Linked DNA regions of Homo sapiens. Each later gene encodes a partner of the first gene's protein in a complex. Each region holds a gene or a part of one and is shown in the gene's direction. Other genes may lie near its edges. The genes, in order: FLCN and LAMTOR5.

The links.
Region 2: FLCN (region 1) and LAMTOR5 share a complex: the UniProt entries of both Homo sapiens proteins name them as parts of the lysosomal folliculin complex.

What each region holds. Positions count from the first base shown.
Region 1 is NC_000017.11:17,226,949-17,230,762, reverse strand, and holds part of FLCN (folliculin), read left to right. Parts: intron 1-932; exon of another isoform or gene 933-2,601; 5' UTR 2,602-2,625; coding exon 2,626-2,874; intron 2,875-3,814. UniProt on the Homo sapiens protein: Multi-functional protein, involved in both the cellular response to amino acid availability and in the regulation of glycolysis.
Region 2 is NC_000001.11:110,400,753-110,405,008, reverse strand, and holds the end of LAMTOR5 (ragulator complex protein LAMTOR5), read left to right. Parts: intron 1-972; coding exon 973-1,090; intron 1,091-3,425; coding exon 3,426-3,486; 3' UTR 3,487-3,756; downstream 3,757-4,256. UniProt on the Homo sapiens protein: As part of the Ragulator complex it is involved in amino acid sensing and activation of mTORC1, a signaling complex promoting cell growth in response to growth factors, energy levels, and amino acids.

The sequences.
Region 1 (3,814 bases):
CGCCACCACTCCAGGCTACTTTTTTTTTTTTTTTTTTGAGATGGAGTCTCGCCCTGTCATAAAGGCTGGAGTGCAGTGACCTAGTCTTGGCTCACTGCAACCTCCGCCTCCCAGGTTCAAGTGATTCTCCTCCCTCAGCCTCCCAAGTAGCTGGGTTTATAGGTGACCGCCAACACGCCCAGCTAAGGTTTTTGTTTTATTTTGTTTTGTTTTTGTTGTTTTTGGTTTTTTTTGAGACTGAGTCTCACTTTGTTGCCCAGGCTCGAGTGCCGTGGTGCGATCTCGGCTCACTGCAACCTTGCCTCCCAGGTTCAAGTGATTCTCGTGCCTCAGCCTCCTGAGTAGCTGGGACTACCAGCGCACACCACCACACCTGGCTAATCTTTGTATTCTTAGTAGAGGCAGGGTTTCACTGCGTCGGCCAGGCTGGTCTCAAACTCCTGACCTCAAGTGATCCACCCGCCTCAGCCTCCCAAAGTGTTGGGATTACAGGCTCATGGGATTACAGGCATGAGCCACTGTGCCGGCCTCTCCTAGCTAATTTAAATTTTAAATTTAAGTTGTCACACATAGCTGTGGCCACCGTATGGACAATGTGGGTCTGGCTGCATGTGTCAGGCTGTGTCACATGTCAGGCTGTTGGCTGTGGCTGTCCCCACTGTGCACCTTTGCTTTTGCGGTCTCGTTTCCAGAACTTCTCTGCCAGTGAGAACCCCATGACACACCCCCATTTTAAAGCCTTCTCTGGCTTTCCTGCATTCGTTAGGAAGGCATACTGCCTCATGCTGCCGCGGCCATCCCTCTGCAATGAGTGCTTGGTGTCCCTCAGACTTTGTGCCTGCAGCTGCCCCTGGCCTTCACATGGTTCCGCCGGCATCGCAGCTGTACTGTGGCCAAGCTTGGGGCTTTCCTTGACTCCATGTCCCCACCAGGTGTCCCATTGCTGGCTCTGCCACGGAAACTCTCCAAAGGGCTCTCTCTACCCACTCCTGTGAGCTTTTTCTCCACCGGAAACTGTGTTAAGGTCACCTTTGACTTCATCATTGTTCTGCAGGTTACCACTCCCCCTTTTAAAAAGATTGTGGTGAAATAATACATGACCTAAAATGCGCCATTTGAACCACTGTTCGGCGTGCAGTGCCGTGGCATGAAGTATGTTCACAGTGCTGTGCGGCCATCGCCACCTTCCGTCTCCAGAACTGAGCCCCGCTCTTCCCTCCCAGTCCCCGGCAGCTGCCATTCTGCTCTCTGTCTCTATGGCTTTGAGGACTCTAGGTACCTCCTATTTAAGTGGAATCCTACAGTGTTTATCCGTTTGTGACCAGTGTAGATCATTTCGTGTAATGTCCTTCAGTTTCAGCCGTGCCGTAGCTTGTGGCAGGGTTTCCTTCCTTTTTAAGGCCATGTGACATTCCAGTCCCACCTTGCTAAAGCAGTTTACCTGGTCACTGGGGTGACTCTGGAGCTCCCCTCTGGCCTCACTGCCTGTGCTTGGTCATGTTGGCTAGCTGTCCTCCCTTCTCCACCTCTGAGTCTACAAGGGCTGCACTCCACGGAGGTCCCATGCGTCAGCCCCGACCGCAGCGCTTGGCTCTGCTGCTGTGTCCCGTCCCCGTGAAGGCTCAGCAGGCACTCACTGGGCCTTCTCCCCTGCTCACTGCTCCGCACTCTGCACCCCACCCGCACTGTGCGTCTTCACCCTGCCTGGCCTGGGCCACTGTCCCTTCCTGCTCAGATCAGTCAGCAGGGTGCCTCAGCTTGTTCCCCACCTCCACCCTGGCCCCCTGCCATCTTTTCTGCACATGGGCATGAGTGAACCTATTCAAGTGAAATTCACATTTTCTCATGTCTCATCAGAACCCCCAAAGCCTCCCCAGTCTCTGATAACACATCCAGGGTCTTTCGGTGGCCTGGAGGAGCTATAAGATCTGCTTCCTACAGCCTCCACCCTGTCTGCTGCTGCTCTTTGGACACCGGACCTTACACACCCCTCAGACAGTACAGCACCCACCCTGCCCTTCAACTCTTGCTTGGCCCCGTAAGCCAGTCCTTCCAGGCTCCTGCCTCCTCTGGTCATTCCCTGCGTGGGCCTCTCGCAGGAAGCAGTTTTCCTGTGTCCCCCGCCGACCCCCTGCAGGAGGTAAGCTGCATGAGGGCAGTATCATGTTGCCTAGCACCTTGGCCCACATGGAGCAGGTGCCAAGCAGATATGTATTGGGTGGAGGACCCTCTCCCTGTGGCCTTTTATCTATTTGTTCTCACAGGGTTTGCCAGGTTTGGCTGCAGTTCATGTCACTTGAGGACATTCCTTTCCAGCGCCGTTGGCTTTGTGGCTGTGGCTCTGTCACAGCTCCAGCTGTGCTATCATTGGTCCACATTGTCCCCTCCCCTATTTGCTGTGACTCCCATGGGAAGATCCTATCTCTGTTCCTCTCGCACTGGGGCAAAGCAGTGCTGGCAGGGGGCTGGGGAACTGGCGGGTGGCCTCTCCTGGGCAGGAAGTCCATGGCACCCAGGTGCTCCCTGTGCTCCAGAGGGGCTGGGGAGGTTTCATGGAGTCAATAGGCATTGGCAAGCTGACATGTCCCCTGTCCCACGCAGGCCTGTTGCAGTCTCCAAGGCACCATGAATGCCATCGTGGCTCTCTGCCACTTCTGCGAGCTCCACGGCCCCCGCACTCTCTTCTGCACGGAGGTGCTGCACGCCCCACTTCCTCAAGGGGATGGGAATGAGGACAGTCCTGGCCAGGGTGAGCAGGCGGAAGAAGAGGAAGGTGGCATTCAGATGAACAGTCGGATGCGTGCGCACAGCCCCGCAGAGGGGGCCAGCGTCGAGTCCAGCAGCCCGGGGCCCAAAAAGTCGGACATGTGCGAGGCAAGTGTCTTTGGGGTCTTGGTTTTGTGATCCCTGCAGTAGGTGTGGGATGGACAGGAGGACCTGAGAGCAGTGGACGGGGCCTCCCGGGGTGACACAGACTGCTTCTCAGGGGCCCTTCAGTTCTTTCCGCTCATCCTGACTGTAGCTTTTGTTTTGTTTTGTTTTGTTTTTTTTGAGACAGAGTTTTGCTCTTATTGCCCAGGCTGGAGTGCCATGGTGTGATCATGGCTCACTGCAACCTCTGCCTCCCGGGTTCAAGCAATTCTCCTGCCTCAGCCTCCCGAATAACGAATTACACTTGCCTGCCACCACGCCTGGCTAATTTTGTATTTTTAGTAGAGATGGGGTTTCACCATGTTGGGCAGGCTGGTCTTGAACTCGTGACCTCAGGTGATCCACCTGCCTCGGCCTCCCAAAGTGCTGAGATTACAGGCGTGAGCCACCACACCCAGCCTATGTTAACTTCTTTAACCCACTCTGCCTCCCTGCCGTGGCCTTCATGTTTGTATTCACACACTCCAGCCTGTCCTGGAGGCGGGTCCCCAAAGTCCCGTGCTCCCAGTGGAGTTTCCTGCTCCCAGGACCCCCAGTGTTCTCGGTGGGTCACTCCATCAGCTCTTGAACTCTCGGGAATTAGTGTGAGTTTTCCCCAGTGGGCCACTTGTTTTTGTGGAGGACCTGGGTCAGGGCCCAAAATCAGGGGTGGGTGTTGGACCTGCCACTGCAGTGCAAACGGGAACCCAAGCTTGTTCTTTTGGTTCTGCTGCAGAAGCAGAGGACGTGTAAGAGCTGCATCCATTGCTGGAATTGCCTGTAAGGAATGGGGGATGGGGAGCACCTCAGACCTGGGAAGGAGGGCACCGCCAGGCTGCTGGGGCATCCTTGAGCTGGTTTTGGGGTTGCCCATGGAGGAATCCTGCGACACTGTGGGGAGAGT
Region 2 (4,256 bases), on another chromosome or scaffold:
TGGCACGATCTTGGCTCACTGCAACCTCCATTTCCCAGGTTCAGGCAATTCTCCTGCCTCAGCCTCCTGAGTAGCTGGGATTACAGGCGCCTGCCACCACGCCCAGATAATTTTTGTATTTTTAGTAGATACAGGGTTTCACTATGTTGGCCAGGCTGGTCTCGAACTCCTTATCTCAGGTGATCCACCCACCTCCGCCTCCCAAAGTGCGGGATTACAGGAATGAGCCACTACACCCGGCCTAATCACGATATTTTAAGGTTATATAATATGTATAAAATGCTTACATAGAACTGAGACATAATACTTAATAAATGGTAGCAATTACACATGAGGAAATAAGTTTGGAAAGGTAAATAAGTAAAGCATTCAGTTAATTAGTGACAACTAGTAAACCCAAGACTTGTTGCTCCTAATGCAGGAATGTTTAAAGCTCTGAATTTTTGCTGGAAGGGTAACTGAAAGAGGTAATCGGTGTAACTCAGTTATGTTTAACATGCAGATCAGTCATTTGGGAGAAAAAGGGTAAATTTTTGGAAGCATTTGCTAGGCTTACTAATGGAAAGACTGAAATTCAGGTATGGAAATCTAAAACTAAATGAGTTCCTTCAAGAAACCTTCAAGGCTCAAACGTCGGCATCGGATCTGGTCAAAATGTTTTGTATAGTAATAGTACATCCAAATGCTCTGCCATAGTGGCATGTCTATTACCTGATTTGGTTTCAGGTACAGTTAACTTTGTGTTGCCTTTATATACAGAAATATATTGTAAAGTACACTTAGTAATTAATTTTCGTACCTAGAATTTATAGGTACTTTTGTACCCGAGATTTAGTTACTATAATATATACAGACTAATACAGACATTAATAAAAAGACAATTCTGTAGACATTTTAAAACAGCCAGCTAGCTTATTTTAGCAGAAATACTCTATGAGCAATCAGGTGACATATATCATCTCTATTTTCCAGGCCGCGGGACCCTGTCAGATGAGCATGCTGGAGTGATATCTGTTCTAGCCCAGCAAGCAGCTAAGCTAACCTCTGACCCCACTGATATTCCTGTGGTGTGTCTAGAATCAGATAATGGGTGAGTAGATTTCAGCAGATCCTTTCCTTTTTGTTCAGAAAAATTCCTGGTAAAATTGGCGGGGGCCGGCCCTGTGTTCATCAGTGATTCCTTATTCAGACTACTTTGGGAAAAGTTCTTAATCTTTTGAATCACAGGAACAGACAAGTTGATCCCTAAAGCTAATGTGCTCTCAGGCCACAATGCTATTTAAATGAAGAATAAGAATTGGCAGAAGCTATCAGTTTACCAACAAAAAGAAAGTAACAAATAGCACAAAGGAAAACTAATCAGAGAATAAAAATTACTTTTTTTTTTTTTCTTTTTGAGGCAGGGTGTTGCTCTGGCACCAGGCTGGAGTACAGTGGTGTGATCATGGGTCACTGTGACTTCAACCCCACCGGGCTCAAGCGATTCACCCAACTCAGCCTCCCGAGTTGTAGCTGAGACTACAGGTGTACACTACCACACCCAGCTAATTTTTGTATTTTTTTGTAGAGATGAGGTTTCACCATGTTTCCCAGGCTGGTCTCGAACTCCTGGGCTCCAGTAATTTGCCCGCCTCAGCCTCCCAAAGTGCTGGGATTACAGGAATGAGTCACTGCACCCAGCCAAAAATTACTTCTAAAGCAATAAAATTACTAAAGATATTCCAAGTGATGGTCCTCAGAATAATATGTGAAAAAAAGTATATATATACAACTGCTACTATCACAGCCTTGTAAAAAGAAAAAACATACAGTCATGCATTGCTTAACAATGGGGATATGTTCTGAGAAATGTGTCAGGCAGTTTTGTTGTATGAACATCATAGAGTGTACTTAAACCTAGGTGGTACACCCTATTACACACCTAGGCTGTATTGCTCTTAGACTACAAAGATTTGTAGCCTAAATAATGTAGGCAGTTATAACAGTGGTATTTATGTATCTAAACGTAGAGAAGATACAGTAAAAGTATGGTATAGGGAAATTTTTTAAAAGGTATATCTGAATAGGGCACTTACCATAATGGAGCTTACAACACTGGAAGTTGCTCTGAGTGAGTCAATAAAACTTTTTGACTTTATAATAACACTTAAAACAGTTGTACAGCTGTACAAAAATTCTTTTTTTAAACTTTTTTACTTTTTAGACTTTTTTGTTAAAAGCAAAGAAGAAACACACATTAGCCTAGGCCTGCACAGGGTCAGGATCATCAATATCACTGGCTTCTATCTCCACATCTTCTCCCACTGGAAGGTCATCCAGGGCAGTAACATGCATGGAGTTGTCATCTCCTGTAATGATGATACCTTCTGGAATACCTCCTAAAGGACCTGTCTGAGGCTGTTTTATAGTTAACCTTGTCTTAATAAGTAGGAGTAGTATACTCTAAAATAATGATAAAAAGTAGGCCCGGCATGGTGGCTCACACTTGTAATCCCAGCACTTTGGGAGGCCAAGGCGGGCAGATCACTTGAGGTAAGGAGTGTGAGACAGCCTAACCAACATGGTGAAACCCTGTCTCTACTAAAAATACAAAAATTAGGCATGGTGGCAGGCACCTGTAATCCTAGCTACTCAGGAGGCTGAGGCAGGAGAATTGCTTGAACCCGGGAGGCAGAGGTTGCAGTGAGCTGAGATCACGCCACTGCCCTCCAGCCTGGGCAACAGAGCAAGACTCCGTCTCAAAAAAAAGAAAAAAAGTATAGTAAATACATAAACCATAGCATAGTCATTTATTATTATCAAGCGTTACGTACTGTACATAATTGTATGTGCTATACTTTTTATGACTGGCAGCACAATTTGTTTACACCAGCATTACCACAAACATGTGAGTAGTGTGTTGTGCTATGTGATGCTGGGACGGTTAAAAGGTCACTAGGCAATAGGAATTTTTCAGTTCCATTATAATCTTACGGGACCACCATCATATGTAGGGTCCACTGTTGACTGAAGCATTGTTATGCAGCACATGACTGTATCATATACATGCAAAGAAAACAAAGACCAGTAAAGCCTTTTTTTTGTAGTTCCAGCTACTGAGGTGGCTGAAGCAGGATTGCTTGAGCCCAGGAGTTTGAGGCCAGCTTGGGCAACATAGCAAGACAGTGCCTAAAAAACCGAAACAAAGAACCAGGGAAATATTAACAGTGGTTGTCTGTGTGTAGTAGGATTAAGGATTCATTTCGTGTTCACATGCTATATGTTTATGTATTTCCCAAATGTTTTGTTATGTTTAAATATTGCTTTTATACGTAGAAACAATTACATTATTTTAAATATTGTATCCTAAAGCAAACAACATCTTTAATCTTGCAGTGAAGTCCCACTGATTACGTTTTACTGAATATTTTCTTCCTGCATTTCAGGAACATTATGATCCAGAAACACGATGGCATCACGGTGGCAGTGCACAAAATGGCCTCTTGATGCTCATATCTGTTCTTCAGCAGCCTGTCATAGGAACTGGATCCTACCTATGTTAATTACCTTATAGAACTACTAAAGTTCCAGTAGTTAGGCCATTCATTTAATGTGCATTAGGCACTTTTCTGTTTATTTAAGAGTCAATTGCTTTCTAATGCTCTATGGACCGACTATCAAGATATTAGTAAGAAAGGATCATGTTTTGAAGCAGCAGGTCCAGGTCACTTTGTATATAGAATTTTGCTGTATTCAATAAATCTGTTTGGAGGAAAATGGATCTTTTCTAGATTCTTTAAACTTAACCAAATGTTCCTTTTGTTCAGTTATCAAACTGTAATTTTTTTAAAAGGTCTTTGTTCTAAATTACTTTTGTTTAAGAAGCTTCCTGAAATACCTACATTCTCACAGGTATGTCCATGGATCCCACCCCTGTGCAGTCAGAAATCTACATGTAACTTTTGACCCCTCAGTAGCCTACTGACTTAAACAGTAACACGAGTTTTCTATGTTTTACGTTTTCGTTTTTTGTTTTGTTTTGTTTTGTTTTTTTCAGTAGACAGAGTCCTGCTCTGTCGCCAGGCTGGAGTGCAGTGGTGCGATCTCAGCTCACTGCAAGCTCCGCCTCCTGGGTTCAAGCGATTCTCCTGCCTCAGCCTCCAGAGTAGCTGGGACTACAGGCGCACGACACCACACCTGGCTGATTTTTGTATTTTTAGTAGAGATGGGGTTTCGCCATGTTGGCCAGGATCGTCTCGATCTCCTGACCTCGTGAT